6 separate regions of the Homo sapiens genome follow, and all the other regions are reported to be linked to region 3. Evidence: microRNA targets listed by miRTarBase, many of them from high-throughput screens and not tested one by one. Region 3 holds a microRNA gene; each other region holds the end of a gene's coding sequence. Distances are from middle to middle.

The links. Region 3 holds the annotated microRNA hsa-miR-1207-5p (UGGCAGGGAGGCUGGGAGGGG, at 2,788-2,808, shown strand). A microRNA usually pairs through its seed, bases 2 to 8, with sites in the 3' UTR of a target mRNA and lowers its output. Matches are read on the target gene's strand: a 7mer-m8 pairs with bases 2 to 8, a 7mer-A1 pairs with bases 2 to 7 and ends in A, and an 8mer does both.
Region 1: miRTarBase lists SLC38A4 as a target of hsa-miR-1207-5p. Seed matches in the 3' UTR shown: 7mer-m8 at 3,096-3,102.
Region 2: the mRNA of THBD is a reported target of hsa-miR-1207-5p. Seed matches in the 3' UTR shown: 7mer-m8 at 1,666-1,672.
Region 4: the mRNA of NDRG1 is a reported target of hsa-miR-1207-5p. Seed matches in the 3' UTR shown: 7mer-m8 at 473-479 and 7mer-A1 at 478-484.
Region 5: miRTarBase lists SARS1 as a target of hsa-miR-1207-5p. Seed matches in the 3' UTR shown: 7mer-m8 at 3,243-3,249.
Region 6: the mRNA of PPM1H is a reported target of hsa-miR-1207-5p. Seed matches in the 3' UTR shown: 7mer-A1 at 122-128.

What each region holds. Positions count from the first base shown.
Region 1 is chr12:46,763,270-46,767,358 of GRCh38, forward strand. SLC38A4 (solute carrier family 38 member 4) reads right to left here. Exons shown (of 17, transcript NM_018018.5): 17 at 1,492-3,533. The coding sequence ends at 3,432. Among named protein-coding and RNA genes, the nearest start is that of SLC38A4, 61 kb to the right of the region's middle.
Region 2 is chr20:23,044,103-23,048,175 of GRCh38, reverse strand. THBD (thrombomodulin) reads left to right here. Exons shown (of 1, transcript NM_000361.3): 1 at 1-2,543. The coding sequence ends at 399. Among named protein-coding and RNA genes, the nearest start is that of THBD, 3.5 kb to the left of the region's middle.
Region 3 is chr8:128,046,372-128,050,460 of GRCh38, forward strand. It overlaps MIR1207 (microRNA 1207), which reads left to right and starts at 2,781; the gene lies at 2,781-2,867. The region is part of intron 6 of PVT1 (Pvt1 oncogene); the gene reads left to right. RefSeq lists enhancers at 1,860-3,976, 2,496-3,041, a silencer at 2,124-2,307 and a cis regulatory region at 2,920-3,172.
Region 4 is chr8:133,235,189-133,239,277 of GRCh38, reverse strand. It overlaps NDRG1 (N-myc downstream regulated 1), which reads left to right. Exons shown (of 16, transcript NM_006096.4): 16 at 159-2,103. The coding sequence ends at 400. Among named protein-coding and RNA genes, the nearest start is that of CCN4, 46 kb to the right of the region's middle.
Region 5 is chr1:109,237,152-109,241,231 of GRCh38, reverse strand. SARS1 (seryl-tRNA synthetase 1) reads right to left here. Exons shown (of 11, transcript NM_006513.4): 10 at 3,859-3,988; 11 at 3,050-3,501. The coding sequence ends at 3,344. Among named protein-coding and RNA genes, the nearest start is that of CELSR2, 10 kb to the left of the region's middle. RefSeq lists silencers at 91-385, 1,493-1,907 and enhancers at 396-1,091, 3,032-4,080.
Region 6 is chr12:62,644,937-62,649,025 of GRCh38, forward strand. It overlaps PPM1H (protein phosphatase, Mg2+/Mn2+ dependent 1H), which reads right to left. Exons shown (of 10, transcript NM_020700.2): 10 at 1-3,700. The coding sequence ends at 3,553. Among named protein-coding and RNA genes, the nearest start is that of MIRLET7I, 43 kb to the left of the region's middle.

The DNA of each region.
Region 1 (4,089 bases), not on the chromosome of region 3:
CAGGCTGTGCAGGAATTATGATGCTGGCATCTGCTTGGCTTCTGGGGAGGCCTCAGGAAACTCACAATCATAGTGGAAGGTGAAGAGGGAGCTGGCACTTCACAAGGCCAGAGCAGAAGGAAAAGAGAAGTGGGAAATGCCACACACTTTTAAACAACTAGATTTTGAGATCACTCATTCACTTTCACTATGACAGTACCAAAAGGGATGGTGTTAAACCAAAACCACCCCCATGATCCAATCACCTCCCACCAGGCCCCACTTCCAACATTAGAGATTACAATTCTACATGAGATTTGGTGGGGACACAGATCCATACCATGTCAAGAGGCTTCTGAGGCTTCTTTTTAAAATTTCTGTCATTTTTTTCTTGGTATAGTTTTTGCCTTGTGGCTAGTTTTAATGTATGCTGATCTAGTTTGCCTTTATAAAGATGTTTAATTTAAAATAAGTTTTTCCAAGTACTATTTTTGTTTTTTTGTTTTTTTTTTTTGCATCTTGGTTAGATGATCCAGTCCTACCTATATGGGCCCAGGACATCAAAACATTTAATTTTGACTATACCACTCTGATTAATTTTATCTCATTAAGACATAAATTGCAAAACTTTGAGCTATGGTGACCTGGCCCCAGAAAGATGTAATTAAGACACCTTTAGGAAAATAAGCAACCATACCATAGACTGGGAAAATATATTGGCAATCTGGACATGGATCCATATTTAAAGAGCTTCTACAAATACCCAATAAAAACACATAACCTAAATTTTAAAAATGGGCAAAAGATTTGAATACACACTTCACAAAAGAAGATATATGAGTGACCATTAAACACTTGAAAAGTTTTCAACATTAGTTGTCACAGAAGCAGAAATGAAAATCACAATGAGTTACCATTTCAGACCCACTAGAAAGGCTAAAATGCAAAAGACAACACCAAATGTTGGCAGGGCTGTGGAGTCAGTGGAAGTTGTAGGTAGTACGGGTGGAAATGAAAATGGTAGAAACACTGTGGAAAACTATGTGGAAGTTTCTTATAAAGTTAAGCATATACTTACCCTGTGATCCGTCAATCCCCCTAATCGTTCATTCATAATCAATCCTTAGCACTCACATGTTTTCCCTGCCCCCATATTTTCTCTGCTCTTTATTTTACTATTCTCAGGTTTCTTCTATTCTCTCATTTTCTATCTTCAATGGATTCTTTCAAACTAACCATAAAAGACTCATTTCTTCCACATTCATTCTAGGTGGTATATATGTGATGCCAAAATTATAATCATCATAATAATTTAGGATTAAATATCTATTTTGCCAAAATAAGATGGCAATTATTTTCAGGATGATGGCTATAGATGTTAGTTATGTGTCAAAGGTAACAATGAAAATGGAACATAAACCAATATAAGAAAGACAGTATTTGGATTTTAAATTTTGTTTCATGGACAAATAACACAACATTCTTTAACAATAGATCAAAAATCACATCATAGTCATTTGAAAAGTTCATTTATTATATACCAATATACACTTTCTGTAATAAAAAAGAAGCCTCCCAATACATTGAGCCATCTTATAAATGAAATAAGAAAATAAAATTTTCATCTGTTTACAAATGGGGTTAAATTAATCAGCACAAGCTATCATATGTATGTCTGCCCTGCAGTATATATGAATTTTAATCCTGGTTATGAAGAAAAAAATGGTGCTTTATTATTTGGCACTATAGGATGCTCTTGAACATTCAGAAGATACCTTTTTCCACTTTTTATTTTTGTATACTTTTTAGATGAGTGAAAATGTAAATATATCCTAAAGATGCTATTTGGCAGATTTTTTTCAAATAATAGTAGCTCAAAAGTACGTGTATGATACTTGTACTTCATAATTGGCTTTACTAAAATATAAAATACACAAGTGATCTTACTATGATTTGAAAAAAAGGTAGTGAACTCCAGAAGTTTTAGGCTGTGAGTAGGAATTTTTAAATCCATTTTATGTAAGTTTGTTATAGAAGTGAGCAAGAATGATCGTGTGCATTTCTTCGTAGTGTTAGCACTTATACTTTTACAGAGAACCACTCAACACTGTATTAAATGGCCAATGAATGTCAGCAAACACCTGTGTGAGCTAAACTGAACTAAATCCTATTTTAGATATGCTAAATTAAAAGAACAACTTTAGTATGATAAAAATTTGCAAAAAGAAACTTATTTTCTTGTAGATCATCCTATTATTGTAAATATTGAAGAAGAGCATTGCCAAACTATATATAACTTAGGTTTCAAATTTAAATTATCCCCAGACATTTGTAGACAGATACATATGAATGGATTTTCGAGCCCACCAACTTAATTCCCTGCCCCCACCCCCAATAATATAAATGCTTTGACTGTGAAGAAAGAAAACTACACATGTAAAAAATAAAAATCAAATGTACCTTACATTAACATTCTGATGACTACAGAATAAGATTATATACATAAACATATAGCAAATCACAGTTTCCTGCACTGAATGTTTATCAAATAAAAATGTATCAAACAATACTGGGTAGTGTATCTCCACGATTGTGGTCTTCTAAAAATTCTGAATGAGGATGGAAGACGAGAGGGAGAGCATTGTTCAATGACAAAAGTATGACAAGAGGATTTAGGAATAACATGAAAAAGCAGATGCTTTCTAGAACAGGCAGTTTAGCTATAAGCATTATTTTTGTTGTTGCTCTATGATTGAAATAAAGCCCCTCTCTATATTTAGTGTTTTAACATTTAAATATAGATGTTTTAACATTTACAAAAATCTATTGAATATAGAAGTCACAACTCAATGTCACAAACAGGGTGGGCAAAATATTATTTTGCTGTTGACAATAAGATGCTCTAGACTGGTGTTTGACCATTCATGTACCTTACAGAAACAGAAACAGTTCCTAAGACATGCCTTTTGCCTCTGTTAGTAAACAGACCAGAGACTTTGGTGCAAGACTGAGAGAAGACATTAAATGGTGATAGCTTTGCCACCAGGGCATTTTTGTTTGATGTTCTGAGAATGCAAATGTTTGGTACTTTTTTAGGGGGTGCAGGATGAGGAGACGGCAGGGGAAAGAGTACTATCTGATGATTGTTACATGCAGTTACCCTTATTCTGCTCGTAAAGCAGCAAAAATACACCTTCATCATCTCACACTGCTCTAGCAAAACCTGGGTAGAAATGTGCACCACAGGTTTTATTTTAAACACATACACAACCATCCTTGACAAAAACAGTGATTTTCCTCTTCTGCAGGTGCCTGGTGATATTACTGGTAAACGTCTTTGGAATCTTCCTGTTATTTCCTATGAATAACATTCCAATCAAGATAATTCAAATATCTTTTGGAGTATAACTTGTAACCATTTCCAATAGAAAAAGAAAGTATTTTTCCTTGTGTTAGTGATGCTTGGAATTTGGAGGATCATAAATCCAGTCAATTATAATGAGTGCCATGCTTCCAATCATGAAGAATATTCCAACCACAAGGAAAATTAAAGCCTGTAATTCAGAGAGACTCTGTTAGGAGCACAGAAACCATACTTAGTACAATTTGTTTTTTAGTTGTTTACATAATATGGCAATCTGATCTATATATTGAGCCATATTATTCTTAATATCTCAGATGCCCAGGCCTAACCTATCAGTCAATTTAGAATCCTAGTTGAAGAAAGAAGAGGAATACAGTGGAGAGATACAACCTACAGGTTCAACAATGGAGTAATAGTTAATTGATTTAGTACACCAAGATGATGGAATACCCTGTGATTATTAAAAATCAAGGGACAGAAAAAGATTCAATAATCTAGAGAATGCTTACAATCTTTTAGGTGAAAAAGAGCAGGTTAAAAAAGAATAGCATATATGATATGATTCTAATTTTATAAAGCAAACAAAACCAAAAGCTTAATAGATGTTGCAACAAAAAGTGTATATATGTGTGTGTGTGTGTGTGCATACATATAATATACACACACATATATAAGGATATATGTACATACCTACATATAAAATACTTCAGCATTTTAACACCAGAAGAGGCCTTACATTTTATCAC
Region 2 (4,073 bases), not on the chromosome of region 3:
GAGTGCGAAAACGGCGGCTTCTGCTCCGGGGTGTGCCACAACCTCCCCGGTACCTTCGAGTGCATCTGCGGGCCCGACTCGGCCCTTGCCCGCCACATTGGCACCGACTGTGACTCCGGCAAGGTGGACGGTGGCGACAGCGGCTCTGGCGAGCCCCCGCCCAGCCCGACGCCCGGCTCCACCTTGACTCCTCCGGCCGTGGGGCTCGTGCATTCGGGCTTGCTCATAGGCATCTCCATCGCGAGCCTGTGCCTGGTGGTGGCGCTTTTGGCGCTCCTCTGCCACCTGCGCAAGAAGCAGGGCGCCGCCAGGGCCAAGATGGAGTACAAGTGCGCGGCCCCTTCCAAGGAGGTAGTGCTGCAGCACGTGCGGACCGAGCGGACGCCGCAGAGACTCTGAGCGGCCTCCGTCCAGGAGCCTGGCTCCGTCCAGGAGCCTGTGCCTCCTCACCCCCAGCTTTGCTACCAAAGCACCTTAGCTGGCATTACAGCTGGAGAAGACCCTCCCCGCACCCCCCAAGCTGTTTTCTTCTATTCCATGGCTAACTGGCGAGGGGGTGATTAGAGGGAGGAGAATGAGCCTCGGCCTCTTCCGTGACGTCACTGGACCACTGGGCAATGATGGCAATTTTGTAACGAAGACACAGACTGCGATTTGTCCCAGGTCCTCACTACCGGGCGCAGGAGGGTGAGCGTTATTGGTCGGCAGCCTTCTGGGCAGACCTTGACCTCGTGGGCTAGGGATGACTAAAATATTTATTTTTTTTAAGTATTTAGGTTTTTGTTTGTTTCCTTTGTTCTTACCTGTATGTCTCCAGTATCCACTTTGCACAGCTCTCCGGTCTCTCTCTCTCTACAAACTCCCACTTGTCATGTGACAGGTAAACTATCTTGGTGAATTTTTTTTTCCTAGCCCTCTCACATTTATGAAGCAAGCCCCACTTATTCCCCATTCTTCCTAGTTTTCTCCTCCCAGGAACTGGGCCAACTCACCTGAGTCACCCTACCTGTGCCTGACCCTACTTCTTTTGCTCTTAGCTGTCTGCTCAGACAGAACCCCTACATGAAACAGAAACAAAAACACTAAAAATAAAAATGGCCATTTGCTTTTTCACCAGATTTGCTAATTTATCCTGAAATTTCAGATTCCCAGAGCAAAATAATTTTAAACAAAGGTTGAGATGTAAAAGGTATTAAATTGATGTTGCTGGACTGTCATAGAAATTACACCCAAAGAGGTATTTATCTTTACTTTTAAACAGTGAGCCTGAATTTTGTTGCTGTTTTGATTTGTACTGAAAAATGGTAATTGTTGCTAATCTTCTTATGCAATTTCCTTTTTTGTTATTATTACTTATTTTTGACAGTGTTGAAAATGTTCAGAAGGTTGCTCTAGATTGAGAGAAGAGACAAACACCTCCCAGGAGACAGTTCAAGAAAGCTTCAAACTGCATGATTCATGCCAATTAGCAATTGACTGTCACTGTTCCTTGTCACTGGTAGACCAAAATAAAACCAGCTCTACTGGTCTTGTGGAATTGGGAGCTTGGGAATGGATCCTGGAGGATGCCCAATTAGGGCCTAGCCTTAATCAGGTCCTCAGAGAATTTCTACCATTTCAGAGAGGCCTTTTGGAATGTGGCCCCTGAACAAGAATTGGAAGCTGCCCTGCCCATGGGAGCTGGTTAGAAATGCAGAATCCTAGGCTCCACCCCATCCAGTTCATGAGAATCTATATTTAACAAGATCTGCAGGGGGTGTGTCTGCTCAGTAATTTGAGGACAACCATTCCAGACTGCTTCCAATTTTCTGGAATACATGAAATATAGATCAGTTATAAGTAGCAGGCCAAGTCAGGCCCTTATTTTCAAGAAACTGAGGAATTTTCTTTGTGTAGCTTTGCTCTTTGGTAGAAAAGGCTAGGTACACAGCTCTAGACACTGCCACACAGGGTCTGCAAGGTCTTTGGTTCAGCTAAGCTAGGAATGAAATCCTGCTTCAGTGTATGGAAATAAATGTATCATAGAAATGTAACTTTTGTAAGACAAAGGTTTTCCTCTTCTATTTTGTAAACTCAAAATATTTGTACATAGTTATTTATTTATTGGAGATAATCTAGAACACAGGCAAAATCCTTGCTTATGACATCACTTGTACAAAATAAACAAATAACAATGTGCTCTCGGGTTGTGTGTCTGTTCACTTTTCCTCCCTCAGTGCCCTCATTTTATGTCATTAAATGGGGCTCACAAACCATGCAAATGCTATGAGATGCATGGAGGGCTGCCCTGTACCCCAGCACTTGTGTTGTCTGGTGGTGGCACCATCTCTGATTTTCAAAGCTTTTTCCAGAGGCTATTATTTTCACTGTAGAATGATTTCATGCTATCTCTGTGTGCACAAATATTTATTTTCTTTCTGTAACCATAACAACTTCATATATGAGGACTTGTGTCTCTGTGCTTTTAAATGCATAAATGCATTATAGGATCATTTGTTGGAATGAATTAAATAAACCCTTCCTGGGGCATCTGGCGAATCCCAGCTGTGTGTCCGGTGTATGGTTTGGCATTATCTCCTCTGCGAGATATCCAAATTCACTGTAGTCATGAAGGGTCTCAGTTTGTGGCTCTCATTCAAATATTCATTTCTAAACGTCTCATCCAGTATGAAATCATTCTCATCTCTTTTGGAGATTAACAACATCATCTTTTCAATGCACACGTTTCTTGGGCTCACTTTTCTAAGGTGGTAGGGCTGGCTGAATGCAATATGCAGGGCTCGGAAAGATTTTTTAAAGAAGAAATTAAAAGCAAGTAGAGTCCAGGCAAATATTCAGATGCTTTATATGTCTGGATAATGCTGAACTCATGAGTTTTAGTTTGACTGATTATTGTGAAGACCGGGTTGGAGATTTTGACATCCATCGCAGAAGAAGTAATGGCTTTAGTGTGTGTGTGTGTGTGCTGGGGAAGCTCCATGCACAGTGCCCTATGGAGATAACAAGCTGAGCCATGCTCCCCCTAAGTAGCAGACTAAGTCTTTGTGAAGGAAGAGCTACACAAATGGGGGCAGGACAGGTGCAGATAAATGGGGCTGGGAGACCAGAGGAGACAGTGACACCTTATAGTTCGCCCCCTGTTACCCAGCCTTCTGTTTGTCAAAAGAGTCTGCTCCCAGTCACTGTCAAACTGACTTGTAGGGCCTCATTGCGTTAGGATTTCTTCTTATTCCAGAAGAGGGGCATTTTCTTAAGGAACACTGGAAGACCAAAACACACTTTCAAAACCTAGAGGCAAAAACCCTTCATGCAGCACTTGGGCCCCAGGACATTAGTTGTGCGGGGCCCTGAGCTTCCCTGTCCTCCTCACTTCCTGCTGCCTGGGGGATCAGCAGTTCTGTTTATAGGTCTCATCTGAACTTGAGATTCTCAAAACGCTAAATAGCCATAGTGCCTCTCAGGGAAAGATACCAGGACCACATAAACAAATCAGTTAGCTTTAAAAACTATCCCTGAGAATTTAAAATCAGGATAGACCTTGTGAAACCAGAGCCATGGGTCAACCTGTGTGATCTCTGCTTTCTGTTCACATCATTGGACATCCAGGTCTGAGGGAGACTCCCAGGGACCAGTTGCTGGTGAAATTTCATAGCACAAAAGTCCGGGGCAAGAAAGCCAAGGTGGTATTTCTGGATAAGCCAGCATTCAAGTTTGTTTGTTTGTTTGTTTGTTTGTTTTTCCTAGCCTGCTGTTTTAAAGTAAACAGAATGCATTTTTTTAAGTCAAATGACTTTGTTATTTTTTTTTTCCAGTTCTCACCTATTTCTTAGATTAGTTCAGCAATTATTTACTGAGCATTTACTCTGTGCCTTTCATAGTGATAGGCACAATGACAAGTCCCTACCATATAAGTTAGACTCTGGCAGGGGAGAAAGATGCAAAACAACTGATCACCCCCAAATTGTACTTAACTTAGAAACAGTGATAAGTGCAGGGGAAGAAAAGCACAGCACACTCTGAAAAGGCGCACGAGGAAGGCAGGATTTAGAGTGGAGGACTAGAGGGAGCTTCCT
Region 3 (4,089 bases):
GTAACTTGTTCAACCTGGGAATGGCAGAGCTGGGATCTGAAGTCCGGGAGCCTGGCTCCGTAGGCCTCTGTTTAAGCCACTGCATCTGTTGCCTTGTGGAATGTTCTTAGAACTGTAGGATACTGGTTCCCACATGGCCGAGAGTCTTCTCTCACTAGTTCGTGCTCCATGGTGATGGAGAAGCATAGTTCTAATCTGTCATTCTGTTGCTCTGGAGCCTACACAGCCCCCCATCGCATCTGGAGGGAGAAGCCCAGCTCCTTAGCACAGCACCTGAGAAATACCCTTTACAGTCTGGCCACTGGCTGAACATTCTTTCACTCTCCATGCCACACTGCTCTGTGAGTACCATCTGAAGGTCCTCTCCCTTTTCTCTGTCTTCTAAATGTTCACTCTTCAATATCTAACTCAAATATCCTCTTCTCTAACTTGTCCAGGAAGAATGAGTAAGGCCCTTTCCTTTGTTCCCCAGGCTCTTAGTTTCTCCATCTCTAATCACGTAGATTACAGCCCTTTCTTTGGTTTTCTCCAGGGGACCAAGGAGTGGGGCTCTGCCTTTCTCATGTCTGCTCTGCCTTCACGGTCCCCCACAGTGTCTTCAGTGGATGGCCAACCTCTCATGAACAGGATGTCCTCTTGTCTGAGGTTCTACTTTGTTCCAGCCATGGAGTCATACTCTCTTTATCTTTTGACTATCCAAAGGTGTTCTGTTGGACGACTGATGCCTTCCTCCAAGGTACTTTGGGCTCCCAAGTGTGCAGTTGACATTTGCTGTGCCTTCTCCACCAGGCTTTAGTTTTTGATGTATGCTGAGCTTCAGTGGAGATTTGCTAGCCTTGGGCTTTCTGTGTTCTTGAATCTCTCAGAGTCCAGAAGAAAAGGAAAGCTGACACTTTCTAGGAATGACCTGTGAGAAGAGAGGTTGGTGTCTTGCTGCTAAGTTCCGCTTGATTCTGAACTAAGTCACCATGGGCCAGAGGAGGCAGGGATAAGAGGAGTGGTTTCTTGGCCACCAGAATGGAAACGTTTTTGTTTTCTTGTGTGCTTTTGTGGAAATGGTGGCAGTTGCTCACTAAAGAGAACTAAAACCCTTTTACTAGAGCCCCACCAGGTCTGAAGAGGATGGGCGCGTGGGAGCCATTATCTTGTAAAGGACGCTATTGAGACCTTGCTACTGCTGCAGTGAAGAGCACAGGAAAAGCCAAGCTTAAAAAACACTGGGCGAATCCTAAGAACTTTTCATGCAGAAACACATGCATGATGAGAAGAGAATCTTCATTACAACATTGTTTGACACAGAAAAACGAGACTCAGCTTAAATGCTCATTAGTTAGTGATTGGTTGATTAAGTTGTGATAAAATGGAACACTAATACAGCTGTTTAAAAAATTAGTAAAAAAAAATCAGTATGTGAGATGATGCACCTGTTAATTAACTCAACTTAGCCATTCCACAATGTATACATCATTCAAAACTTCACATCATATATTATAAATATATACAATTTTTATTTGTGAATTAAAAATTAATCTAAAAAAATTAGTGGCTATATGAAGTAATTGGGAACAATCTTGAAGCTATATTAACTACCAAAGAGCAAAGTCAACCTTAACAATGCTGACTTTTTAAAGAATAGTGCCTAGAACACTGTGTGGAGTATGCTAACAGCTACACACTAATGCACAGCCACCAACCCCAGATCAGTTACGTGAACTTCTGCATTCACAAACACACTTAACACACTCTGTGGCTATTGCCTCTTTACTGACCTGTAAGTCAGTTCTAGAAGACAGACGATCCATGAAGGCAGGTCCTAGCCTGCCCATTTGCATTGGTATCTCCAAGGCCAAGCTAGAGAAGGCACACAATAGGCTTTCCACTAATATTTGTGAATGAATGAATGAACAGAGAGAGGAGTTTTCTTTCCACAGTTTCCTTCTACCTGCTACTCCTTGAGCATATGAGGCTGGAATCTAAGCCCTGAGGTCACTCACTGCTCTCCTGGGTACTATCCCTGGCCTCCCGTCCTTTTCCTTGAGCTTCTGTGCTCTGCAAGGCTTTCTCATTATCCTTTAGGCTACAGAGAAACAAGGAGACGGGAGAGCCTTGAAATGGACCTTCAAGATTACAATGTGTAGCTGACATTGTCAGTTAAGTTGGGCAGATCTGACTTCGCTGATTAAGTGGATGTATGAGCCGATCCTCCCCAGAAGCTGGGATCAGCTTCCCCATCTGATGGTGAGTCAGACCTGCTGGGGTTTGGGTCCTCGCTCCAGCATGGCTGCCTGTGTGACCTTGGCCACTTTACTTAACCTTGCTGAATCTCAATTTCCTGATCTGTAAAGGAAGCTAAAAATGCCTCTCTTGAGGTTGTAGTGAGGATTAAATGTGATAGCATAAGTGAAAGTGCCCTTTGAAGAAAGAGGAAGGCGAAAGCGCTTATTGTGTCAGGAGAAATGTGTGGAGAGCCCCCTGTTGTTCTCAGGTGTCTCATCCTTCCCAGGGAAAAATCCCCATGCCAAGTCAGAAGAGGTTATAATTTGGCTCTTACTCTTTTATTCAGGCACTTCTTTCGGCTGCCCAGGGTTTTCAGCTTAAGCAAATAAATTACCCTTCTCCACTGGACTCTGTGTTCTGCAGCCAGCCATATGTTTAAGCTTGATAGAGATTTTTATCTGGCTTGGTAATATTACCCAGCAAGGGATGACATTTCTTATCAGAGGCCCTGAGGAATCAGAGATAGGAGCCCTTTCTTTTTCCTGGCCGCCAGGCCTCCATGTGCAGGGCTGGCAGGGAGGCTGGGAGGGGCTGGCTGGGTCTGGTAGTGGGCATCAGCTGGCCCTCATTTCTTAAGACAGCACTTCTGTTAGCTGACCTACACAGAAGCAGGTCATTTCGAGATGTTTGCGTCTTGGAGCCACTGATAGAAGCAGGGCAAGGGAGAGTGAATGAGGAAGGAAGGCGGGAGTGTGATGACGCATGCCCAGCTTTGCGCGGAGGCAGAGCACTTGCCTGTGTGGGGCCCTGCCCTTCTCTTGAGAGGCAGGCGGGCCCTAGCTGCAGCGTCAAGGTCTGGGGATTCTGTGGCTCTGTAGGGTGAAGGGCACTGGAGACCTACCAGGGGCTGGGCCATTGGAGTGGTGGGTGCTGGGGAGCTTCCGTGGGCCCCTCCAGGTCCACTCCTTGCTCTTCTCTGCCTTGTTTTGTGCCCAGAAGGCTGACCTGTGTGGATGCATTATCAGGGTGGATGCAACACAGGGCTGCCATGCTCTCTGGTATCAGTTTGGAAGGCACTGGCAGGATGGGAAGGCAGGCGGGGAGTGAGGTCAGGGGGCCTATCCTTCCACTGCCTCCCTGCTGCTCCCTGACTGATTCAGGTAAGGTTTACACCGGGGCTCTAGGTTTGAATTTTGATTCTGGCATGTACTTGCTGTGTGATATTAGGCAAGTGGTGGAACCTCTCTGTGCGTCCGACTTCTCATCTATAGTAACGCTTTTGCATTCCATTGATCTCTTTGCCTCTCATTTGCCCTGAATGCTGAAGGAAAGGACACTGCTGTATCCCCTGAGGGACTGTCTGAGCCCAAAGTACACTGGGGACAAGGGCTTCAGGGTGGGCAAGGAGATGACCGATGATCACGTGATTTGGAACTATAGCCTCCATTGGAGACACGTGCTCTGGGCTCTTTCCCTCCTGAGTTTTGGGAAGTCCTGGCCTGTGCAGCCTAATTCTCAAGTACTAATCTTGCAATCATAAGAAGAGGAAGGAGAAGTGGTTTTCCCTCTCCCTGGACCCATTCCAGCCAGCAGTTCCTGACTTTGCTTCCTTCCTGTTGGTGCCCACTCTGTTTCCTTCCATCCCTTCCCCAACCTCTCCCATCCCATGCCTCATGTTGGGCAACTTGAGTTTAACTGTCTCTTCTTCCAGTGGCCAAGTCCAAATTCTGAAAGCACAGTTCTGACCATGTCCCTGTCCAACTCAAAAACAGTAGCTCCGTGTCACCCACAGGCTTGAAGTCAGACCTCTCAGGGGGCATTAAGTCCACCGCAACATCACTCCAGCCTGTGAATAAAGACTGAATGCCTCCG
Region 4 (4,089 bases), 5.2 Mb from region 3:
GACATGGAGAGGACGGGGGCCCAGCAGCTGGATGGCTGCAGGGATCAAGTCTTCTCTGGGGCTGGCACGTAGAAGAGCATGTGGCTGGTGGACGGGCATGCCTGGCTCCTCACCTGGCAGTCTCCTGCCCTCTAACCGGCTGTCTCTTGTTCCCCTAGTGCCCTCGGCTAGCATGACCCGCCTGATGCGGTCCCGCACAGCCTCTGGTTCCAGCGTCACTTCTCTGGATGGCACCCGCAGCCGCTCCCACACCAGCGAGGGCACCCGAAGCCGCTCCCACACCAGCGAGGGCACCCGCAGCCGCTCGCACACCAGCGAGGGGGCCCACCTGGACATCACCCCCAACTCGGGTGCTGCTGGGAACAGCGCCGGGCCCAAGTCCATGGAGGTCTCCTGCTAGGCGGCCTGCCCAGCTGCCGCCCCCGGACTCTGATCTCTGTAGTGGCCCCCTCCTCCCCGGCCCCTTTTCGCCCCCTGCCTGCCATACTGCGCCTAACTCGGTATTAATCCAAAGCTTATTTTGTAAGAGTGAGCTCTGGTGGAGACAAATGAGGTCTATTACGTGGGTGCCCTCTCCAAAGGCGGGGTGGCGGTGGACCAAAGGAAGGAAGCAAGCATCTCCGCATCGCATCCTCTTCCATTAACCAGTGGCCGGTTGCCACTCTCCTCCCCTCCCTCAGAGACACCAAACTGCCAAAAACAAGACGCGTAGCAGCACACACTTCACAAAGCCAAGCCTAGGCCGCCCTGAGCATCCTGGTTCAAACGGGTGCCTGGTCAGAAGGCCAGCCGCCCACTTCCCGTTTCCTCTTTAACTGAGGAGAAGCTGATCCAGTTTCCGGAAACAAAATCCTTTTCTCATTTGGGGAGGGGGGTAATAGTGACATGCAGGCACCTCTTTTAAACAGGCAAAACAGGAAGGGGGAAAAGGTGGGATTCATGTCGAGGCTAGAGGCATTTGGAACAACAAATCTACGTAGTTAACTTGAAGAAACCGATTTTTAAAGTTGGTGCATCTAGAAAGCTTTGAATGCAGAAGCAAACAAGCTTGATTTTTCTAGCATCCTCTTAATGTGCAGCAAAAGCAGGCGACAAAATCTCCTGGCTTTACAGACAAAAATATTTCAGCAAACGTTGGGCATCATGGTTTTTGAAGGCTTTAGTTCTGCTTTCTGCCTCTCCTCCACAGCCCCAACCTCCCACCCCTGATACATGAGCCAGTGATTATTCTTGTTCAGGGAGAAGATCATTTAGATTTGTTTTGCATTCCTTAGAATGGAGGGCAACATTCCACAGCTGCCCTGGCTGTGATGAGTGTCCTTGCAGGGGCCGGAGTAGGAGCACTGGGGTGGGGGTGGAATTGGGGTTACTCGATGTAAGGGATTCCTTGTTGTTGTGTTGAGATCCAGTGCAGTTGTGATTTCTGTGGATCCCAGCTTGGTTCCAGGAATTTTGTGTGATTGGCTTAAATCCAGTTTTCAATCTTCGACAGCTGGGCTGGAACGTGAACTCAGTAGCTGAACCTGTCTGACCCGGTCACGTTCTTGGATCCTCAGAACTCTTTGCTCTTGTCGGGGTGGGGGTGGGAACTCACGTGGGGAGCGGTGGCTGAGAAAATGTAAGGATTCTGGAATACATATTCCATGGGACTTTCCTTCCCTCTCCTGCTTCCTCTTTTCCTGCTCCCTAACCTTTCGCCGAATGGGGCAGCACCACTGACGTTTCTGGGCGGCCAGTGCGGCTGCCAGGTTCCTGTACTACTGCCTTGTACTTTTCATTTTGGCTCACCGTGGATTTTCTCATAGGAAGTTTGGTCAGAGTGAATTGAATATTGTAAGTCAGCCACTGGGACCCGAGGATTTCTGGGACCCCGCAGTTGGGAGGAGGAAGTAGTCCAGCCTTCCAGGTGGCGTGAGAGGCAATGACTCGTTACCTGCCGCCCATCACCTTGGAGGCCTTCCCTGGCCTTGAGTAGAAAAGTCGGGGATCGGGGCAAGAGAGGCTGAGTACGGATGGGAAACTATTGTGCACAAGTCTTTCCAGAGGAGTTTCTTAATGAGATATTTGTATTTATTTCCAGACCAATAAATTTGTAACTTTGCAGCGGCTTGTGTCTTTTTTCTGTCCCTGAGAGATTGTGTGTGTGAAACATTGCAGTGCAGGGATGGCTGTTTCACTGGGGGGTTGCCCGTCCTTGACACCTAGGGGACCCCAGCCCCTCATCTCTGGAATTCTTTCCTCGGAGCATCACGTCCAGCAGAAATTTAAGTCAGCTCATATGTTAATTCTAATTTCCCAGTGGCCACATTTTCAAAAGTGGAAAGAAACAGATGAAATTAATTTTAATAATACATTTCATTTATCTCAAGACGTCTAAAATATTACCACTTCTATAAAAACTATTGACCAGGTATTTTGCATTCTTTTTTCATTCTAGGAACTCTAGTGTGTTTCACACTCGCAATGCATTCAGACCAGCTGCATTTCAATTGCCCAGTAGCTTGGGCAGCACAATGATGAGGATAAAAAACTTTCCAACCTATAATTCGAGGAAAACAGCTTTTTTATTTTTAATATTTATTTTTATTTTTTGAAACGTAGTCTCACTTTGTCACCCAGGCTCAAGTGCAGTGGCACAATCTTCGCTAATTGCAACCTCCGCCTCCCAGGTTCAAGCAGTTCTCGTGCCTTAGCCTGCTGAGTAGCTGGGATTACAGGCATGCGCCACCATGCCCAGATAATTTATTTTTATTTTTATTTTTAGTAGAGATGGGGTTTTTGCCATGGCCAGGCTGGTCTCGAACTCCTGACCTCAAGTGATCCGTCCACCTAGGCCTCCCAGAGTGCTGGGATTACAGGCATGAGTCACCGTACCCAGGCTACATTTTGTTTGGATTACAAACAAATGTATGTGGAAAGATCATTCCTTTTCTCATGCCCAGTGACAACCATTGTAATGCTTGTTTTCTACTCTACATTAAAAAAAAGAGATTTTAGTGTAACCTCTTATTTAAACTAAGATTAGTTTAAAATATACAGACAGTTGCAAACAATACAGAGAGTTGCCATATAGCCTGTACTTAGTGACCCCTGTCACTAATATCTGACGTTACTGCATACTTGTCACAACCGGGAGATCAGTTGGACGTTGCTGTTAACTAAGCCCTGGACCATATTGAGAATTCACTGGGGTTCCCCTAATGTCCTCTCTCTGTCCAGGATCCCATCTGGGACACCCCATTACATTTTGTCATCATGTCTCAGCTTCCTCTGGTTTGTAACAGTTTCTCAGATTTTATTTTATTTATTTATTTATTTATTTATTTTTACTTGAGATGGAGTCTTGCTCTGTCGCCCAGGCCGGAGTGCAGTGGTGTGATCTCGGCTCACTGCAACCTCTGCCTCCCAGGTTCAAGCAATTCTCCTACCTCACCCTCCCAAGTAACTGGGATTACAGGCGCAGGCTGCCACGCCCAGCTAATTTTTTTGTATTTTAGTAGAGACGGGTTTTCACTGTGTTGTCCAGGCTGGTCTCCAACTTCTGAGCTCAGGTAATCCACCCGCCTTGGCCTCCCAAAGTGCTTGGATTACAGGTGTGAGCCACCGCGACCGGCCAGATTTTCCCTTTTCTTCAACAGCGTTGAGAAGCACTAGTCAGACATTCTGTCACAAGTCTCCCCACTGAGGTTTGTAAGTAGTTTTTCTCACAGTACAACTTGGGGCTGTGGGTTTTTCGGGGAAACCCACAGAGGTGATTTGTCCTGCTTCTCACATCATATCCAGGCCACACGCTATCACTGTGGTTTATCACTGATGGGATTAATGGTGATGGCGTGGCTGGGGTAGTGTTTGCCAGATTTCTCTATCGTCAGGTTACCCTTTCCACTTTTCCATATTCATTCTTTGGAAGTGTGAACCCCCAAAATTTGAGACAGGTCTCTGTTAATTTAGAAAGTTTATTTTGCCAAGGCTGAGGACAGGCGCCTGTGACAGCCTCAGGAGGTCCTGACGACCTGTGCCCAAGGTGATCGGGGCACAGTTTGGTTGTATACATTTTAGGGAGACATGAGACCGCAATCCATACATGTA
Region 5 (4,080 bases), not on the chromosome of region 3:
CTCCTGGGTTCAAGCGATCCTCCTGCCTCAGCCTCCTGAGTAGCTGGGATTACAGGTGCGCACCACCATGCTCGCCTAATTTTTGGTATTTTTAGTAGAATCAGAGTTTCACCATGTTAACCAGGCTGGTCTCGAACTCCTGACCTCAGGCGATCCGCCCTCCTAGGCCTCCCAAAGCGCTGGGATTACAGGTTGGCCCCGCCGGAGAGGGCTCTTAAAAGGGCAATGTCAGAGGCCGAGGCATCAGCCCCACCAGGACCTGGCCAAGTCCAGGCTGCAAGGAAGCACTCCCCTTTTGTACCTGGGAAGAGCTGCTGGGGAACCCCATGTTGGGAGGTAACTGGGAGAGCGGGGCAGGCCCCTCATCCCGGCACAGGCTCCGACACGCAGTACATTTGTCTGGCGCCCATCCCAGCTCTGCCTGTCAGACTCATCCTGGGAGTGCAGCCAGGGCCGCCCCCGCCGCGTACCCCCTGGGGAAGGATGGGGACTCGGGGAGAGGAGGCATTCTCAGGACCTGGGGTAAACCGGAAAAGCTTCAGGGGAGGAAAAGCAGGACAGACGGCTAGGAGAATGTTGGTTCCCAGGAGTGAGGTTTCAGTGTTTGGCTAATGAGCTGCCCTGCCCAGCCTGGACTGTGAGCGCAGGCAGGTCCCTCGGCCTTACGTTGGGTCCCCAGTTACCAGCCTCTTTAGAGTTTCTAGAAGTCTGGCTTATGGTTGTCTCTCTTGGTGGAGAGGCCAGACTGTTGGTCCCAGTGTTTCCTCACTCCCTGCCTAAAGCACCCAGACCTGCATCTTGGGCCCTGAATACCTGGGTGTGGGAACCCAGGGTTGGTGAGGGACCCAGGGCTCTGACTCACTCCACTAGGCCTCTGGAGGGTGTTTGCTAACTGAGGTAACCTGGGTAGCTGAGGTTGGAGATGGGGCAGGTCAAGGTGCCAGAGATGAGGGCATCAGGCGTGGGATGCGGAGGCAACTACCAGGGTGGAGTCAAGGCTATTGGGCCTGTTCCCAACTGCTCGGCTTCCAGGTGGGTCGGCCCCTCCTAAATGAAGCTTGCATCAGCCCCATCCCACTGCCTCAGGGAGGGAGAGTGTCTGGTTTTCCCTCTCTGAAGGAAGGCGAACCACACCTTTCCCAACAGTTATTTGTGAGCAGGAACTGTGTTACCTTCTTTCTGTAAACCCTGCTCCTAATGGTGCCTGGCACAAGGTAAGCACTCGGTGACCGTGTGTGCCCTCCTGCTGTTGTGCTCTTGGGTATGACCTGTGGGGAGGGACCTCAGCCACAGTCATCCTTGCCTTCACTACCATTGACTTCCTCTCCTCTGGCTTCTGGAAGCATGGGGTCCCTTATAGTTACTTTCTGCTAACAAGCCAGTTTGTCCATACAGCCATCTTCCTAGCCAGGCTCCTACACCAGTCCCTACACGGGCAGGAGGAAGGCTGGCAGGGAAAGCTGGGCTGCCCAAGGCAGGAGGGTCTCTCTGCACAAAGCAGCTGAGAGTCCAGGCAGCCAGCTCCAGCAGGTAAGTCAGCTGGGTCCTCAGGGACTCAAAGCCCCAGCTTCTGCCCTCCCACAGAGCTCTCAGGGCCATGGCAAAAAGCAGAGCCTCCTACTGGTAGGAAGGTGACAGGCACCAGGAGCCTAAGCAGGTAGGCGTGGGGAGTGGTGCAGGCAGCTGTAGGGACTTCTAAGACAGAGCTAAGGCAGAGCAGGGGCGTTCAGGGCCCTGTGAGAGTTCCCAGTGGGCTTCTGGAATGGTATAGGGGGTGGGGCAAAACTAGCCTCCTGCACACTGTGTACGCTGCCTTTCTTCAAACCAAATAGTTGAGGCCACAGGAAATGTGAGTTTCTGGTCCTTCTGAATTACAAATGGGAGCAGCTTGCTCTTTGTCCCCTTGTCCCGGCTTTGTTATCCCAGAGCTGGGGCAATGGGCTACGGCCCAGGCGGGTCTGCCTGTGGGCCCCCAGCTGGCATAGCCAGGCAAGACAAGAGAGCCACTGTCACCCCTTCACGCACCTACCTCAGTTTTGACAGGGTTTCCAGCAGCAAGATTAATAGGATCAATCTCAAGCCCCCAGTGGAAAATGGAGCACATGGCCCCTTTCCTTGGTACTATGCTCCAGCAGGCCCAAGTCGCTGCTCAGGGACTAAGGAAGCTGAGGTGAGATAAAGGCTCCTAAGTGACAGCCCAGTTCACATTCCAGCTCTCAACCTCCCAAAGAAACATAAAGCACTGCCGAGGAGTCAGGACTTCCGACCTCCATCAGGCCACGTTGTCTCATCTCCCTTACCGTCCTTGTATTTCTGTCTTCCAAAGGATGGAATAAGCATAATCATATAATCATGTCCCCACCCTACCTTCTGGGACCATCACAAAGATAAAAGAGATCATCTATAGGGAGTATTTTAACCTCCTAGGAGAGAGGCACTAAACTAACAGAAGCTGTTATTAAAGTAAAGGGTTTGTAGATTGCAGATGAAAGGCAGCAGGTAAATAAACAGCCTGAACATCAGCCTCCCCTGAGAAAGGAACTGGCTATTAGGGCAACAGTGGGAGCTCCACAAAGGGGCTACAACATTTTCTCCTCTCCTCTGCCCTGCTGGCTATCCCAATCCTTTGGAGGTGCAGCAGCAAGTTGGTATGCAGTTGGTCTCCCCATGTGGGGATGGCTGTAACGAGAGAAACTGCTGTTAATAAGTCCCCAACCCATGCTAGGCATAGAAGCTAGGGGCTCTTCTGGATTAAATACAGCCTCTCGCTTTCCACAGAGTCCTTTGTAGGGAACAGAAGTGCTAAGAGGCTTTTAAAACAGTTCTGGTCTCTAAGCTAGTCCTACCTCAATGATTTCAAGCAGGAATATATTTGTAAAGGAGGATCCTGGCCCTTGCCCTGCAAGCTTTTGTGATTCAGACTCCATCTTCCACCTTCCCCTTGAGCTTTTTCTAAGTGTACCCCTCCCTTCGCTTACCTGTTCAAAGGCTCTGTGACTTGCTAACTGGAGGGAGCAGCCTAATTTGGAAGGAAAAGCAGAAGTGTATATCAGGGAGAACCTCAGAGGCGGGGTTCAAGCCCGGGGAAGAAGACTGAGGAAGAGTCCTAAGCCCTCCCCAGAGATGCTTTATTACATGGTTTCATCAGTCATCAATGATGGGTCCCTATGCCCATGCGAGGAGACAGGAACATCTGTGTGGTACATGGCACTGTTCCCCTCTCAGCTACGCAGTCAGATGGGGGCAGGGGGATGAATGGGTGCTTGGCTTCCCTGCTGTTGGGCAGGCTCTGAGATCTCAGCAGACAGAAATGAAAGCCTGGCAAATAGGGAGGCAGGAATGTTCAAGCATCGGTGACCTCCATGTTCTGCAGCCTGTTTTCTAGGGTGACGTCTCTTGCTGCTGCTTTCTTTTTGCTGCCCTCATGTTGCTTCTTCTGCTTCTTTGATGGCTCCTGCTCAATGGGCGCAGGCTTCACAAAGGGGATCAGTTCTTGCAGTCCTGGGAGGGAAGAGCCAACCAAATGACCTGTTGTTTCTCAGTGAGTCAAAGCCCTAAGACCTCTGGGGAGAATTCAACAAGACAATGATCCCTTTGAACAGAGGGGTCCCTTTGATAGGCACTGGTTTCCTTTATTCTTTTCTTCCCTAGTCTGAATTTTAGCAGCATTTCAACATCATACCTGCACTGGCTACTTTCTCAACCAGGCCCCCTGCCCTGCCCAGCCCGAGAGGGCAGACAGAGTTTCAGGGGCTGTGTCTGAACAAAAAAACCTGGTATATCCTGAAAGGGGACTGCTATTTAGAAGAGTGTGAAGACAGAAAAGAGGAGAACGATGAGATGAGCTGGGAGTTTTACCTGGCGGCATGAACTCCTTCAATTTCTCAGGCACAGTGATGCCCTTCTCTGTCTGGTAGTTCTCCAGGATGGCGCAGATGGTACGGGTAGTGGCGCACATGGTAGCATTGAGCATATGGACAAACTCCACCTGGGAAGACAGGGTCCCAGAGGGGAAGTCGGGCTCAACTCTCATCGGGTCTTACTGACGGCCAGGAACCATCCATTCAACCAGACTTCCCC
Region 6 (4,089 bases), not on the chromosome of region 3:
CATCAAAGCTTAACATATTCACTCTGAAAACAGCGGAGCTGCTGGGTCGCTTAAGGAAAGCTGAGAACCTCAAACCTGTGGAAGGAAAACCAGTGACCACTTGTGGCCTTATAAAGTTGATTGGCAGGTGAGGAAGGGGATCTCAAGAGGAGAATCCGAATTTCAAAGACATGGGAGATTTGTCCCTAATGTTTTCATACTAGTGCTCTTGTTAAATGGAAAACCCTTCCTGAATGGGGAAGATCTGAGGCTAAATCTGGATCCTGGGACTCTCATTCTTGCCCACCACCATCTCCCTGTGGCTGTCATTCTTCCCTGGAAGTGAATGAATACTGAGAACACAGTAAGAGGAGGGTGGTCACAGCTGACTTCACAAAGCCTCATGGAGGTTAAGTTGTTCAAGAATTTAAAAAGTAAACACCCCAAATCCTCCAAAATGGAATACTGTGGAAAATAACTGAAATTTCCACTGCTTAAGGCTTCATCCTATTAAGACAGCTGAGTACTTGGCCTGGCCCGATTTTCACCTTTCCTTTTACACCTCAAGAACAGCAGATAGGTATGCATAACCACAGCAGAACACACCCTCCACCTCTCTGACTGCTGACACTGGCTACAGGAATAAGGCTTTGGTTATCATCTAGCAAAATGCCACAGAGCATGGACGGACTGAGTTTGTTCTAAGGAAAGGAGTTTCACCAGATAGTCTGAAGAGGCCCAGCCCAGCAAAGAGATTTAGAGCAGGAAAGCCTTTCATTAAAGTAGCCACACACCCCTCGAGACAACCATAAAGACTTGACTAGGAAATCAAAAGGTTTTTATTAAACAAGACTTCCTCTGAGGCTATTCGAGCAAGCAGATTTGGCTATAAGTCAGATACGCAAGATTTCTGAACCATGTATAAATACGTTCTGCAGAATTTCGAAGTGTGCGTCCTTTGACTTTTCCAGGGATGCACCAGGGGCCAACCCGTTATGTAGACACGGTTACTGTTTTAGGACTGGGTGACATGGGGCCTGGGTAAAAAAATAAGGCCAAAACTGAGTAAGCTCAATTTATAGAGCAATATCAGTGCTGGACAGATCTGCCATGCTTCGTTTACATCATGTTTCCTACTTTTGATTTCTTCATCTTATTTATAGTCTTCCTCCCATCCCCTGAACACAAACTTGACTTTATCTTCTAACTAAGATCTTTCCACTCAAGGGGGCGTAGGAAAACAATTCCTGGATGCCTTTCTAACTAAAACCAGCAGGACTAAGTGCTCAAGATTTTATAATATTTCGATTTAGAGGTTTCTAGAGTTATTCCTGAGACGTGCCATAGCAGTAAATGAATTGGTGAATTGAGTAGAAGGTAGTTGTGACATCTACACCCAAATTCTTACTCTGGTGGCTTGAATAAAACTGGAGAAGCTCAAGGTAGGGCCCAGATAGAGGCCCAGGAAAGCAAATAAATGAAAGACGGTGGGGACACAGGAAGGATCCCAAAGACGGCAGCTCAGGGTCCTCCACGGAAGACTTGCTCAGGTTTCCTACTTACACATGACTCTGAGTGCCAGGGCAGAACAGGGAGTGGACCACACTGCTGTCACATGCCCGAAGGTTTTCCTACAGCATCAGACTCTGCCACGAAGCAAAGCATTTTCCACAAACTTCTCTCCATAGAGATATCTGGGGTAGCTAAGATCTACTGCAGGAGGAAGAAACGTGCTGCAGATGAAGACAACTCCTGACAAGGCCGAAGTCCCATTCTTCCCAGGCCAACACTTGCACAAACACCTGGTGGCGTGAATTCCCACAGTATTTCACCTGCCAGACGGCACTGTCTCCACACCCTGGAATGAGTTCTTTCCTGAGCAGGAGGGGCTCCAGGCCTTTTCGAATACAATACCGACAACTCCAGAAATGCAGGTGATTTACTGCCCTGGAGGAGAGGTTCCTATCCTCTCCTCTGGGAAGAAATTCAAACAAATATGAGAACTGGAATTAGCTCTCTAGCATGCTGGGGGGGTCACGTCAGTGACCTTTTTTCCTTTTTGGGTCAGAAGAGTGTTTTAATTACTCAAAGTTGTCAAAATGGTGGCAATACCTCAGTAGCTCAGCAGGAAGAAGACTAGGTAATTTTGTGGCCGTACAAGTCTGCCTAAGAGACAGAAGTGAGTTTTATAATCTACTTGGCCATTCCTCCCAGCAGAGAAGCAGCAGGTAGATATGGCATGCACTGTGCCTGCTGCTGCTGCTCTTGTGGCGAACACTCAGATGTGGAACCATAGAGGGACCTTGAGGAGCTGGGACATGATTCTTTAGAGAAGAGAAGAGACAGGGAGCACAGCATGAGAATGGCCAGTCAACCCATTTCAAATTCTTTTATTAAAGTGCCCCCCGAGGGGCCTTGCACAAAGATGATGGGGAGAGCAGAACTGCTGCTCCTTGACAGAACTCTGATCCTTACACTTTGTTTGGAGTGGGCTTGGGGACAGTCACAAGCCATGAAACATGAATCCAAAATGGTCCCCAGATGAGCCATGGTGAACCAACAGATGCAAGCAACTTCTTAAACTGCTCTATTAAACACTGCTTTATATGTGTCCCCATGATACAGAAAAGTGGGATGGGGCCAGCCATTCCAGAAATGAAAATCCAGACTCTCACAGAGAACCCTTGAGCCACACAGGAAGACCACTGAAGACAACAGAGGAACTACTGGTCCACAGAAACACTCAGTTTCATGAAAACACACTGATTCGGTTAGAAAATGCAACTTGGGAACAAACATTACACAACAAAGACCCTCTGTCATGCAGGGCACTGGCCCGGATGCTGCCTGGGCTGTGTGGGCTGGAGGAGGTGGGGACAACCCAGCCTGGGTGGGACTTGGACACAGAACTTCCTTAGCAGGGTGTTGGAAAGTCCCAGGCCTGTTCTGTGGAAGGGGAATAAAAAACAGATTCAAGGAATGTCAAAAACACGAAAAAAAAAAAAAAAAATCCCTGCCTCACTCCACCACTGCCATAAAAGAATAGAAACAGAGAAGAAAAAAAGAGAAGGGGGGCGGGGGGCAGACGGCAATCCCTGAAATAAACCTCAGGCTTCCTAGAAGGTGGGCACTTACTTACATTTTGAGGCATGACCCCCTACTTTCCAATGCAGCACTTTTTAACCCGTAGATAAGCTGGCAGCTTGACAGGCTGAAGAGTCCTCTGCCATTTACACCTGAAAATGGCTGCCCCAGCTACTCTAGATAAAATAAATATGACATATATACCCCAAATAGTCAATGGCCACCTCGGAGGCCTATGAAAGGAACTGAAATACAACAACACTTGGTAGCAGCCTTTGTGTTTTGCTCTTGTTGAGTTGACCTGTTACTAAAGAAGAAATGGAAACCAAAGGGTCATCTTGAAGCATAGTCTTTTGGCCATGAACTCCCCGCTTGGGCTGGGAAGAGACTGCATCACTTGGAACTCAGCTGGGGCACTTCCCAGTTCCGTCCTGCCAAGAGGCATCCCAGCTTTCTTCCCCTCTGTCCTCCCAATCCCCTGGGCCATTTTCATGACAGCTTGTTTCCATGTATTAAAGGAATGACATATACAGAAATGTCGTCTCCTGAGCCCAGTCGGTCATTAGATATCCGCCATCCTCTGTCCTTCAGCACACCCCGGGCACGCATCACCAGGTCCTGAGCTGCCAGTGTGTACCTACACAGGAGAACCAGGAACGAGACAGTCAGTAGAGCATCAGACAGAAGCCAGGGTCAAGTGAGGCTGGGAAGGGGGAGGCATCACTACAGTTGTATAAATAAGTTTCAAATACACTTACAATACGAAAAAGACAAGGTCATCTTTTCCCAAAATGTAGGACACCTAATGTGAGATTATTGTTTACATGGTAGTGGGATAAGGCACTAAATACATTAGATAATGTCTTACATTATTCACCTCCTCAGTCCTCTTTTGATGTTTTTGATTGATTACATTGAGGGGAGTCTCAGTTTGCTGCTAGTATAGCTCAAAGAGCTGCTCAAGCTCAGAGCTTTCCATGACAAATGGTATCTAGCTTAAAAAGTACATGGGAAAAATCAGAACTT